Homo sapiens: one gene and its partner. The protein of the gene in region 2 purifies or fractionates together with the protein of the main gene of each other region. This does not show direct contact. Each region holds a gene or a part of one and is shown on either strand. Other genes may lie near its edges.

Region 1 (3,834 bases), on a different chromosome or scaffold from region 2:
CTTTCAGACTGGGTTGGTGTGGGTGTGGATAAGGGTCCTTTTTCTAAGGCACAAGAAGGGTGTGCTTATCCAGTTGCTCTGTGTTTGTTGCTAGGGGGTACCGTCTAGCCATGGAGGGTACCAACACACACTATTGAAGCTGATTGTGCTCTGTTTTTTTTCTATATAAGTAAAGTGTTGTTTCATCCAGGGCTTGACTGCATTATGTTCTCCTTCATGACTCTGATAAAGCGATGCAATGGGCATATGTGATTAGAGTCAATTCCTGGGATTAGCAAGTGATGCCCAGTGTTCTGCTTAACAATTAGAATAACCCAACTTGGTCATAAAGTACTATCCTTTTTATATACTACTGGATTTGGTTTGATACTACTTAGTTTAGTAACTTTGCTTCTATTTTTCAAGAGATGAGATTGGCCTGTGTATTTCTTTTCTTGAAATGTACTCATCAAGCTTTGGAATGAACACTAAGCTGCCCTTGAAATGATTGAGAAATATCCTTTTTCTTCTATTATATTGAAGAATATGGGTAAAATTGGCATTATTTATTCTTTAAATGTTTGGTAAATTTTGCCAATGAAACAACCTGGGCCTATAGTTTACTTTGTGGGAAGGTTTTTATTTATATATACAATTTTAAATTTTTCTTATGTCTTTTAGTTCTGTACATATTTTAAACTCACAAGACATTTGTTATTATTGTTTTACACATTGCTCATTCAGATTTACTCAGATATTTGCCATTTCTGTTGTTCTTCACTTCTTGCTGCATCTCTTAGCTATAATCTTTTTTATTTTACCCGAAATACATTCTTTAGTATTTCAATTAGTGTAAAACTTTGGTGAATAATTCTCTTTTGTTTATATGAAAGTGTCTTTATTTCACATTAGTTTGTAAGGGATATTTTTGTTGGCTTTAGATTTCTATGCTGACAGTTATTATTTTAGCACAGTTATATTCTATGCTGACAGTTATATTCTTTTAGAACATTGAAGCCATGTTTTCATTGTCTTCTGCCTCTCATTTGTTCTGATGTACAGTCAGCAATAATTTTTTTTTTTGCTACTCCTTTGATGGTAATACCTCTTTTTAATTTTTGTGTGCTTTTCTAGTCTTTAGTTTTCAGTCACATCTATTTTTTTAGGTAAGATTATTTTCAATCGAGTGCTAGACTTTGAGATGAAAATGTGGTACTAACAATGAGGCTCCAGATGATGCTATCTTTTTTCAAAGACATATAACTTTTGCTTTTGGAGCCTATCCAAGTCACCTTAAAGGTTCCTTTGGAGTCCATTCAAGTGTTGTTTTTCTTGTTTCTGGATTATAGCTGTTCGGAGAAATGATGCTATGTGACTTCCAAGATAAGGTCATAAAAGATGATCTAGTTTCTGCCTTGTTCATTGGGCTGTAAGCTGCAGTATGAGAAGATCAACTCTCTGAAGCTGCCATGCCATGAGAAAGTCATGTGGTGAAGCCATATTCAGGCACTCTAGTCAACATTTACATCTGAGCTTAATGTTTGAATCATTTCAACAAAGGCACCAGAAACACAAATAAAGAAACCTCCAAATGGTTTTAGCCTGCAGCCATCAAGTGACTCCCAGCCTTCAAGGCTTTCCAGCTGACGTCCTAATTACAGTAGAGAAGAGACAAGTAGTCACCTCTGTGCCCTGGCTGAATTCTTGACCTGCAGAATCTGTGAGTATAATAAAATGGTTGCTTCATGCCACTAAGCTTTAGGGTTGTTTGTTACACAACAATGGTGAAAGGAATGAGTGTTCTGGAGGTGTCAAAGGAAATAAGGAAATGAAAATGAATAAAAAGTATAAGATTGGAAGAAAAAATAGAGCTGCCATTTTTTATGGTTGATGTTATTGTGTAAATAGAAAATGTAAAAGAATATACAGATAAACTATTAATATTCACATATGAGTTTAGAAAATTACTTGATACAAGGTCAACATACTATAATCAATTGTATTTGTATATTGCGGTTATAAACATTCTACCTTTTTAAAAGGAAATATAAAGGGCAATGAATAGTCAGGACACTTCATGAAGAAGACCAAAGTAGGAGAATTTGCCATATTACATTTCAAGATATTTAAATTTATAATAAGTAATATAGTGTGGTAATGGCACAAGGGTAGACAAATAGACAAATGAAACAGAATACAGACACCAGAAACAGACTCACGCATGTATAATCATTTGATTTTTGACAAAGATGGTATTGCAAAATAGTGGGAAAAGGGTGTAGTTTCAATTATTGGTGCTAGAATAATTGGATAGCTATTTGAAAAAAATTAAACTTGACATATATCTCAAACCTTACACACAAATCAATTCCAGGTGGAATGTAGATCTAAATGTAAAAAGCACCACAATAAAGCTTTTATAAATAAATGTAAGATAACATTTTCACGTTCTCAGGGTCTGGAAAGATTTCTTTAAAAATTCACAGAAAAGCATTAACCATAAAGAAAAATATTTTATATATGACTAATTAAAAATGTTTAAAAAAAGGCTAGCCTCAGGATAAAAGTTACTTGCAACACATAGGGACAAAATGTTGCTATTAGGAATAGAGACAAAAAAATATAGAAAAATAGAAAAAGTTCTTAACAGATATTCCACAAAAGAAAATATATAAATGGCAATAAATATATGAAAAGATGCACAACTTCTTAGTAATCAGTGAAATGTAAATTAAAACCACTGTGAAATACTATTCCTCAGAAAATAAAAGGGCTAAAAGAGAAACAAAGTGTCCAGAATGAGGACCTTACACTACTTTATACAATGCTAGTCATACCATTCTTGGATTATGACATTCAATTCTGGGACGACCTTTTGTAGAAGAGAGAAACTGACAAACTGAAACATATTTAGTGACACCTCTAGAGATCACAGCTTATGAAGAATGGCTAGAGAAACAGGAAATACTAAGTTGGAGAAGAGAAGGCTTCATATTACAAGGATAAAGATGAGTTTATAATGGGTAATTATTAGAATCAAAGAAACATGAAAGGAAACAGTTCTCAGCTTAATCTCAGAAAATAATGTTCTAATGTTTTAAGCTGACTAAAAGCAGAATGGAAATGCCTCTGGAATTTTCAGCTCACTGTAACTGGAGGTGTTCATAAGTAATTTCTGGACAACCACTCTATGGAGTTATTACTGGTAGGATGTGGGGGGAAGATAGAGAGCGTATTAGTCAGGGTTTTCTAGAGGGACAGAACTAATAAGATAGGTGTATATATAAAGGGGAATTTATTAAGAAGCATTGACTCACACGATCACAAGATGAAGTCCCACATTAGGCTGTCTGCAAGCTGAGGAGCAAGAAAGCCAGTCCAAGTTCCAAAACCTCAAAAATAGGGAAGCCGACAGTGCAGCCTTCAGTCTGTGGTCGAAGGTCCAAGAGTCCCAAAGCTGAAGAACTTGTATTCCAATGTTCAAGGGCAGGAAGCATCTAGTACGGGAGAAAGATGTGGGCTGGGAGACTAAGCCAGTCTAGTCCTTCCATGTTCCTTTGCCTGCTTTTATGCTAGCAGTGCTGGAAGCTGATTAGATGGTACCCAGCCAGACTGAGGGTGGGTAAGCATCTCCCAGTCCACTGACTCATATGTTAATCTCCTTTGGCAACACCCTCACAGACACACCCAGGAACAATACTTTGCATCCTCAATCCATTCAAGTTGACACTCAGTATTAACCATCACAGAGGGTTAGAGTGACTTCTGAGGTTTTAAGGGGTTTAAAATTCCACCCTATCCCTATCCTGTCTCTTTCCAATGATAACCAAATTTATTCGCTCCTCCTCTGGAGTC
Region 2 (3,834 bases):
GATGCTGGTGTAAGCAGCTATTCATTTAAAAGAAAACAAACTTAGTCTGGGCATGGTGGCTCACGTGTGTAATCCTAGCACTTTGGGAGGCCAAGGCAGGCGGATTGTGAGGCCACCCTGGGTGACACGGCGAAATCCCGTCTCTACAAAAAATACAAAAATTAGCTAGGTGTGGTGTCATGCGCCTGTAGTCCCAGCTACTTAGGAGGATGAGGCAGGTGGATGGCTTGAACCCAGGAGGCAGAGGCCGCAGTGAGCCAAGATCACACCATTGTATTCCTGCCTGGGCAACAGAGTGAGAACTTTAAGATATATAAAATAAATTCATATGACATAGACTATAAAAATAAAATAATTACAAATGATCTAGGAAAAACATGCAGAATCCAGTGGCAGGGGAGACCTTATAACCATATTTTTAAAAAGCTAGCAACATATCTAGCAATATTAAACTCTATATATACATGTAAGTTAAAAATTGGTGCATGGCAAAACATAACTGAAATATCACCAATTATCTGCAATGCAGACAAAAGGTATCTCATAAATTGACAAGAAAAAGACAACCAATAAAGCAAATAATTTCAATAGGGAAGTCATAGAAGTGCAAACCCAAACAGCTAACAAGTATACAAAAGATACTCTCCAGTAGCGAGGGAAACAATGTAACAATAAGATATCACTTTATACTTATCAGATTGTAACACATTAAAAAGAACTTTAGTATCTATTGCTCATGTACTACAAATGAAAATGTGAAGTACTACAGCCTCTATGGAAAGTGATCTGGCAAATTTATAATGTTAAAATTAGAAATCCATTTCCCTTGATCTGGAGTCTGTTACCAGCTAATTTATGCCACAGAAATAAAAGCATAAACACATGTAAGAACTCCTGTATTTCTACAGGTGGTCTTAGTGTCAGAAAGCTGGAAACAAAGTGATCACTTATGAACAGTGAAATAGATGAATATAACACACCTGTACTGTAGAACGGCATGCAATCATTATTAGAATAAATGAGAGTTATATCAAAATGGCTTGGACAATATCCAAGAGGTACTGCTGGTAAGGAAGGCCAAGGTGCAAAAACATTTCAAGTAGGATTCTGTTTTGAAATACAATTATATAATAATACCAGACATTTTATCTGAAACAGAGGCTATATTAATATTACATTTATAAAAAGATATGGACATTTAAATTACTTACCTGACGTGGATTTTGTTGACCAAATTTAACTTGATGTGTGACAGCCTTGATAAACTTCTGTTGCTTTGCTCCTTTCTTATTCTTCAAACCGAAAGTTTTGTCCTACATGAGAAAGAGCACAGAAATATCTTAGCAATTTATGTTACCATATATATCCTCCAATGATATCTAAAAATCATTATTTTTATTGATAATTATTCTTTACTAATATAAAAACATGCAAAACACTAAACATCAAGTCAAGGCAATATATGACCTTAAATCATCACCCAGATTCTTTACAATTCAATATGTACTCAACATTATCATCATTAAACCTGTTATTCTATGAAGCTTTTTAAATTTTATTATTTTTATATATATTTTTTATTATACTTTAAGTTCTAGGGTACATGTGTACAACGTGCAGGTTTGTTACATATGTATACATGTGCCATGTTGGTGTGCTGCACCCATTAACTCGTCATTTACATTAGGTACATCTCCTAATGCTATCCCTCCCCTCCGCCACCCCACAACAGGCCCCGGTGTGTGATGTTCCCCTTCCTGTGTCCAAGTGTTCTCATTGTTCGATTCCCACCTATGAGTGAGAACATGAGGTGTTTGGTTTTTTGTCCTTGCGATAGTTTGCTAAGAATGATGGTTTCCAGTTTCTATGAAGCTTTTTCTAAAGCATATTTTGGATATCAGTTCTATGGGATGTGCAAAGTTCTTATATTGGGATAAGAAGTCCTGTAGTTAAATACATTTAGGAAAATGCTTGATTAAAAGGATTCTTAATTCTTAAGCACAAGGTATCTTACAGCCCTTATCAGAGGGAATATAATAATATGCAGCACCTCCAAATCATCCTTTGTAGCAGAATCCATTTTTACTCAGAGTATCTTGAGAGGTTATACGATACTGAACACATTTTTGGGACTACTACATAAGAAGAGGAAGATACATTCAGTTCTGGACTGGTTTTTTAGTTAATAAATGTTATCCTCTCAAAAACAATTAAATTTAATAAAGAAATCAAACTACTGAAATGTATACATTCCTAGTTATTGCTAAGATGGAAATACTAAAAGTATGTAAATTAAAAGCAACATTTTCTTTAAATCTGGAATATTAATACAGTAACTTGGTAATATTCAATATAACAGCAGCTATCACTTATGGAATGCTCATTATGTGCTAAGCACTAATGGTGATCCTTGGCTATCTACTCATATTTAGTAAGTATGCAGTATGGGGTTGGGGGGAGAAAAACATTAAAAAAAATAAGTATGCAGTACAAAAACATATAGAAGCCATTGCACAAGTATGAGCAAGCGTGTGTGTGGAGGGGAGCAGTGGTCTGTAGTGGGCTGAATTTTGGAATGTCCCCCAAAATTCAAGTCCACCTGACCATAAATTTGACTTTATTTGGACGTAGGTCTTCACAGATGTAATGAGTTAAGATGACATCATACTAGATTAAGGTAGGCCCTAGATCCAATAACTGGTGCCTTAATAAGGACCACACAGGCACAAAGTGAAGGAAATGTGAAGACAGAGTGACACTGCTATATAAGCCAAAGAATGCCAAGGATTGACAGATGCCACCAGAAACTAGGACAAGGCAAGGAAGAATTCTTCCCTACAGTCTTCAGAGGGAGGGAGCATGGCCCTGCTGACACTAATTTCAGACTTCTAGCCTCCAGATCTCTGAGAGAATAAATTTCTGTTGTTTTAAGTGACCCAGTTTGTAGTCATGTTACAGCAGTTCTAAGAAACTCATATAGCAGGCTTGACTAGTGAGCTTCTCCCTAAGGTGAATGTGTGACAAGCCTGACAAGAAACCAAATGCTAATATCTGAAATATTTTTTCTGGGTCTTTTCTGGTTCTCTGGAGAAAGATCCTCCAGCTGGGAGGGCAATAAGTCTAACTGTAAACAAGAGAAAAGAGCAGGTAGAAGGGGTCTCAGTTTACTGTACAGACTTACTAGCTTCCATTTTCAGGCTCACATCCCACCTCCTCTGTGCTTAGTGTTCCAGAAGCAGAGAGGCCTGTTCTCTGCCACCTCCCACCTCCAAGAAGACCCCTCCTGTTTCTTGCAGAGGTAGTCACCTGGCTGAGCTGTAGTAGATAAGAATTATTAATTACTCCTAACACTTTTAACTTCTAGTTTTCAGCCTCTTGCCTTCTGTATTACCTAGTGCTTCCCATTGTTGAGTTTTTTTTTTTTTTCATAATTTTGCAGAGGAAATGCACTTGCTTCTTACAGGCACACTCCTAGACAGGCACTCAGACATAACCGCTCTGCTCTAAGTCAGTTACCAACTCATCCATCTACTGCCAATCTTCATATGCTGAGGTCCAAGATTACAGATGTCTTCTAATTTCAAAATAGAATTTGTATTTCTTTCTCATTCTCTTGTTTATGGGTGGTTTTAGAGAGGAAGAAGAGGCAAAAAGGTCTTCTCAAAGTAATTTGAGACCCTCTGAGTGGCATTTAGTATGAAACAAGTGGCCATTTTATAGCCTTTATTTTGCTATTATTTCTAAGGGAAAGGAAAAGTAATAATGAGTAGAAAGAATAATAGATACAAAATACCACCACGTGGACAAGCTAGAAAAAGAAAACAATAGTACTGA

What was found.
Region 1: the proteins of ZC3H15 (region 2) and HMGN5 fractionate together in Homo sapiens (co-fractionation; one large-scale study listed by BioGRID). This does not show direct contact.

What each region holds. Positions count from the first base shown.
Region 1 is NC_000023.11:81,191,822-81,195,655, forward strand, and holds part of HMGN5 (high mobility group nucleosome-binding domain-containing protein 5), read right to left. Parts: intron 1-3,834. UniProt on the Homo sapiens protein: Preferentially binds to euchromatin and modulates cellular transcription by counteracting linker histone-mediated chromatin compaction.
Region 2 is NC_000002.12:186,492,712-186,496,545, reverse strand, and holds part of ZC3H15 (zinc finger CCCH domain-containing protein 15), read right to left. Parts: intron 1,314-3,834; coding exon 1,212-1,313; intron 1-1,211. UniProt on the Homo sapiens protein: Protects DRG1 from proteolytic degradation. Stimulates DRG1 GTPase activity likely by increasing the affinity for the potassium ions.